Linked DNA regions of Homo sapiens: region 1 is reported to be linked to region 2. Evidence: microRNA targets listed by miRTarBase, many of them from high-throughput screens and not tested one by one. Region 2 holds a microRNA gene; the other region holds the end of a gene's coding sequence.

Evidence for each region. The annotated mature microRNA hsa-miR-4458 reads AGAGGUAGGUGUGGAAGAA and lies in region 2 at 1,088-1,106, opposite strand. An mRNA with a match to its seed (bases 2 to 7 or 8) in the 3' UTR can be bound and repressed. Matches are read on the target gene's strand: a 7mer-m8 pairs with bases 2 to 8, a 7mer-A1 pairs with bases 2 to 7 and ends in A, and an 8mer does both.
Region 1: miRTarBase lists RNFT1 as a target of hsa-miR-4458. The part of its 3' UTR that is shown has no 7-base or 8-base seed match.

Annotation. Positions count from the first base shown.
Region 1 is chr17:59,950,460-59,953,459 of GRCh38, reverse strand. It overlaps RNFT1 (ring finger protein, transmembrane 1), which reads left to right. Exons shown (of 9, transcript NM_016125.4): 9 at 349-1,220. The coding sequence ends at 483. It overlaps RPS6KB1 (ribosomal protein S6 kinase B1), which reads right to left. Exons shown (of 15, transcript NM_003161.4): 15 at 2,886-3,000. Among named protein-coding and RNA genes, the nearest start is that of RNFT1, 13 kb to the left of the region's middle.
Region 2 is chr5:8,458,779-8,462,038 of GRCh38, reverse strand. It overlaps MIR4458 (microRNA 4458), which reads right to left and starts at 1,114; the gene lies at 1,040-1,114. MIR4458HG (MIR4458 host gene) reads right to left here. Exons shown (of 2, transcript NR_039989.1): 2 at 1-2,106.

The DNA of each region.
Region 1 (3,000 bases), not on the chromosome of region 2:
GGAGGCTGAGGTGGGTGGATCACCTGAGGTCAGGAGTTCAAGACCAGCCTGACCAACATGGTGAAACCCTGTCTCTACTAAAAATAAAAAAACTAGCTGGGCATGGTGGTGGTGGTCACCTGTAATCCCGGCAACTTGGGAGGCTGAGGCAGGAGAATCACTTGAACCAGTCGGGGGCGGAGGTTGCAGTGAGCCGAGATGGTGCCATTGCACTCCGGCCTGGGTGACAGAGCAAGACTTCAGTCTCCATCTCAAAAAAAAAAAAAAAAGAATCCCTTTCATTCCCTACAATGTGATGGATTTAAAATGATTATCAAATATCAAATCTAATTCTTAATTCCATTACAGCATATATTTTGTGAAGAGTGCATGACCTTATGGTTTAACAGAGAGAAAACATGTCCACTCTGCAGAACTGTGATTTCAGACCATATAAACAAATGGAAGGATGGAGCCACTTCATCACACCTTCAAATATATTAAGTTGTATAAACTATCAAGGCCACAAAATACTAATGTCATTTGGTCATAATGACTACTGATAAGGCATCAGAATGGATTTTCAGGGCTACCAGAAAAATGTTTCCAGATGGTTTTAGAATGTAGGACTTATGATCCAATTCACCAAAAGATTAAATGAAACCACCCTGTGTTTTAAAATATATATAATGTTCAACCTAATGTATATGCAACATTTATTCTATTCTAATTATTTGACAGGTAACTGCAGTGTTAAATTGTAAATGTGTTTTCTTTATGTTACCAAAACAGCAATTTGAAATTAGAACTAGTGGTTTTAGAGAACTCAGGTATTCTTTCCTGACATTGTTTTCAGAATAAAGAATATTTTTCATAATATTTTAAGATACATACTATCTAAAAGTAGAATTTTGTTCAGCATTGACTTTTATAATTCCCATCCTAAAAATTCTTAATATTTTCATAAAATTTGTATTTTTAAATGAAAATTCTAAATGTTGTATTTTATCAGTAACATTTTCTAAGTGAAGATTAATTTACTGAGGATGATACATTATAGTATTGTATTATTCTCTGTAGTAAGATTAGTAATAAGTGAAAATAAATGATTTAAATTCATTTTGTCTCTGGACGTCATAAATTCTTCCTGCCATCAGCTTTAATGTTCATGATCATGCTTTTTGTATAGTACCATGGAGTATCTCGAAGTAACTATTAAAATAATTCATGTGGATTATAAACAGCTGGCTTACTTGATGATTTGAATAGTATAGAAAACAAGACAAATGGCCAGGCATGGTGGCTCACACCTGTAATCCCAGCACTTTGGGAGGCAGAGGCAGGAGGACTGCTTGAACCCAGGAGTTCAAGACCAGCCTGGGCAACATCCCATCTCTATTTAAAAGAAAAAAGTTTCAAGACAGATGCCCTAAAATCTTATAAAAAATTGCCCTTATAATTAGTCTTCTCCATAAAAGTTTTGGAATTTTATGCTTGAATCACCATCAATTGGAAGATTGAAGCTCGCACTGAGAGGTGGTCATGAGGTTTTGATAGTGTGGTTTGTTCGCCTCTAGGTATTTGTGCAGGGTGCTAGAAAAGAGAATGAAGCACTTTCTCCCCTTGTTACCTCTAAGGAGGAATCTGAAATCTAAAACATGTCTGAAGGGCTGCTAGTGCTTATATCCAAGTTTAGAGTACATCTATCAGTTTGTAGTCGAGGAAAAGGTGGTAGAAAGAACTTAGGAAGCAGAGGTAGAAAACAGATTTGCTGTACTGATAAGACAAAAGCTAAACTAGCAAATGAATTGTTTAGTTTAGCAAACTGACCAACTGGTTATAGAAGGCACTTCCATGACTGTACAGCCATCCAAATTGACAAACAAACATTAGGAAGCCTGTACCATTTTTTTCTCTCCAGGTAAATACTACCAGGTTGTAAGTACAACTATATTCAATTACAGTATATTTTACTCTGTTATCTACTTTGAGACCCACTACAAATATTATTTAAATGGCTTTGTGGTGATGCTAATAGTTGTATTATTTAGGTATACGGCAGAGGATGGGTGAGAAAAGCAATGTGGGATTACAATTCGGCTGTGAAGGATAGCCAAGATGACTTCCTGTTCAAATACAAGAATAGCATTTTACTTCAGCCCTATTAGAATACCTATTTAATACATTTGCTTACTCTGTAACTATTCAGACAGCACTGTTTCTTAATGAATGTGATTACATAACCAAGGAGGTGCATGGTGGGGTTTTTTTTTGGAATGCAGTTTACCTATAAATTGAAAAGGGAGAAAATCTAATGGAGCTATGCCATCCAATAAAAATGCTGATGAACTGGAAGCATTTCTTCCATCCCTCTATTCCTTCACCTCAAAAACAGGTAATGTAGATTCAGAAACTCATTTACTCTGTGAATTCAGATCATGGCTTCTAAAAGATTGTTTTACCAGTATTGATAGGCTACTATGTTGTATAGCAAGGTAAGATCAGTTTGAGAGCTTCTGTAGAGAAATCCCCTTGGCAAGTGTGGTATAATTACCTCACAGAAAAGAAGTGGTTAATGCAAAATACCCAGCTTACACTAGATATATTGAGACATTAGTTAAAACACATTTGTTCACTACGTTATTTTGTGCATACATATCAAATTATCAAATGTAGCTGACCAAGTGTAGCTGAACAGATTGTTGATTGTTAGCACAAGAAGGTCTTCCTAGAGTTTTTTATGAAGCTAGCTTTCACGTAGATTGTTACATGTATTTTTTTAAGTAAACAATTCATATCTACTATCTGACATAACTTGAAAATCAAAGATGTGTAACATCTAACTTAAAAATCAATACTAAAACTTGTTATATACTTAAATAGCTTCAGTTTCTCAGCAGAACAGCTTTTAACCCATTCCTTACATACATAGTTTATTTATATGACAACTTGAACACATCTGACATGTTAAAATAAATTTAAACCATTTATACACCTGATACGTATACTAATTCCTTCCTA
Region 2 (3,260 bases):
CTGAACCCCAGCGGTGTAGCATAAGTTTATCTCTTACCCACATTCTACGTCCACCACAGGTCACCAGTGGCTGTGCTCTAGTCATTCAGGGACACAGCTGGATGGAGGCTGCACCATCTGAGACACGGGGCACCTCCCTAGTCCTGCCAGAGCCGCAGTAGCAGTGGACCAGAGCTGGAAAGTCACACATGGAGCCTTAAAGTCTTTAAGCAATAAGCCACAACTAGTACCATGGCCCCACCTACTGCAAGAGGGCTGAGAAATGGGAGGAGTTCATAGCATGAGCAATCAATAACTGTCACTGATATCCAGGGAAGTCGTCTCTGACACAGGGAAATCTAAGCAAAGACCAACTAAAGAAAGAAGCTACACAGAAAGTTGGAGACAGGATGATGTCATTTATGATTCCAAGAAATATTCTGTTTGTCTGCCATTTGTTTCCAGTGAACAACCACATCAAATCTTTAATTTAGATATTTTGATAATTAAATGCATTAAAAATCTGTCTCTATTTCTATGCTTAGTTCAAGTAATAGCTTACCTCAGTGATTTTAACAGTCTTACATACCATATAGTATCACTGCCCTTACATTACATCCTTCAATAATTATCCCCTCCCGAGTAAAATCATAATACAAGGGCTGACAAACTCATTCTTGATTGACACACATCTCGACTCCTCACTCATTTCTTCTCCACATATTATTATTTTCTCATTACTTACCTAAAATTTAACCTTATAGATAATGAAAAGGGTTCTGAACATTAAGAAATAATAGAATAGTTATAAATGGAGGAAAAAGTTTGAATAAAAAAGTTTCTTAAAAGGATAGTGTCACTTGCAAAAATAGCTCTTTGAAATACAGGTTCCTATAAACATTTTACACGCATTAAGATATTACTCTTACACATACTGGTAACACAGACACTATACATATTTGTCTCCATTTTAGGAAGAAATGAAGCAAGGCTATTTTTAATAATAAACTTAGAAACAATTCATAACCCCTAGTATTTGCATTAACCTGCAAATACTAGGCAGCACACCACAGCAGAGTGTAACTAAAACCTAAAATAGTGTTTCACTTTCTTCCACACCTACCTCTGTGCGCTCATGCAAGTGTTTTTATTTTGCTTTGCATTAGATGCTTCTGTAATACAGGCATCTGATTCACCCCACATAAAGCTGTTGTAAGTAATCAATGTGAGAAAGTCTACTTATTGTTAAGCATATTTGTATATTTTTTACTAGTTATTTCATACTTGCCCTGAAAGAATACACATTCAAAAAGCTTGAAATTAGGCAATGTCAGTCTCATCAAACAAAACCAGCATTGGAAGCGAATATTAACAAATATCAGAATGAAATTACAAAATATACATCTCCAGCCTCATAAAACATGAATTTTATAAGCACTTTCATAAACATAAGAAAAATAGCTTTGACAATAACTATTTGAAAACATTATTATTAATAATCTTGTATACTGTACATGTGCACTTAAATGTAATAGCACCAACATTCATTATATTATGAAGGGGATACTTTATAAGAATTATAAATTATTTTTACATGATTAAATAATTTTGGCAGAGTAAGTCCGCAGGACTTAAATAACCAGTCAGCCTTAGTATCTACATCTGGACCAGGAAGCCTTTGTGTTACAGACACAGATTCCCTGTGAAGTTCTCCAGGGTGTAAAGAAGGCCCCAGGGAGGTGCCGACGGGATGTGAGGGCTGCCTTTCAGCTCAGGCGAGCCTGCAAGCAACAGGGCAGTTTGGGAAGGGTCACAGGCACAGGAAGGGAGCAGTGGGCAACCATTGATTACATCAAACCAGGATGGTTTCTTCTTTTTAAAGAAACTTTTGTTGAGTGTTTACCCACCCCCATCCACACAAATATGCTCTCTAGGAAATGTGAAAGTATAAGCTTCAGAAAAATGTTTTTCTCATCCTTTAATTTCTGGTTTTATGATCAAATGTTCCGAAGACACTGCTTCTTTTTGCTCAAAATAGTTGACATTGTCATTGCTTCTAGTTTTTCAGCTCCTACTATGCTTACTATGTCCATGGGTGCCATTGACGTCTTTGGCTATTTATCATCTCTAGAAAAGAAAAAAAAACATTAAAATTTTAGGATGTAGGATTCACAATAAATCTCTTACCAAATCCTCCTTAAATCCCTAAACTCTCTACCTGGCTCTGACTCCAGGATCACCCTTTCAGTTCTTTCCATGTTTTTCTTCGGAAAATGTAGTTTCCTAACCTTTCTACCCACCCTTCTCGTCTACTCTTAGGTCTGCAGCCACAGTGATAGTTCTAAGTTGCAAACCTGATCATGTCCTTCCAGTACTTAGTCTTTCAAAAATCTTCCTACTTCCCGCAGAGTGAAGCCTGAACTCTTTAATAGGCATCTAAGGACTTGGACCCGGATCCTGTTAACCTGTTAATTCATCTTTGCCTCTAACTCCCTCCCTTCATCTTTCAAGGCACAGCGCAGGACTTAACTCATTGTGAAAGTACTAAGCCTTGATGTATCTTTAGGAAAAACACACGTATACACACACACGCATGCAAAGAGAGGAAGCATAGCTTAGTGGTTAACCTACATAGACTGCAACTTGCTTAAATAATCCAGTATTTATCTATGTTTTAATAAAATTGTTTTAATAAAAATATATGAAATTCATCTATCTTTTCTCTGGAATGCTTTTGCCTGTTCAAAGATTATACAATGCTCCCGTATGTTACAGAGGAAGCCGTCCCTTCATTTATAAAAGACAGTTAACACATAGCACAAAAACTCTAGAGTAGGATGGATCCGCAACTACTGTACTGGAAATATGCTAAATTAGGGTTCTGATTAGAGTTAATGGAATTAACTTGGGTGAGAGAAAATACTCACCATTAATCTAGGGGTAACAGAGGAGTTAAACTCCAATTCAGAAACAGAGCAGTTCAAAATCAGAATCTAGAGTCAGCCTACATGGGCTTGATCTGGGAATGTGCCCTTTATTAGACGTGTAACCTTGGGCTGCTGCTTGACTGAATAGGTCTTCGATTCCTCATGGAATGAATATAATAAGATCTGATGAATGCAATTAGACAGTGCCTGAAACAGTAGTCTTAAGTAGGTATTTTTGTTGTCCCACTTTTTGAGAAACAAAACCAAAGTCAATTCAATTAAAACTGCAGGTTTCTTGATTTCATCCTAATACTTTGCAAATTAATCACAGAACCCAAGTGAAATTGCCTAGAC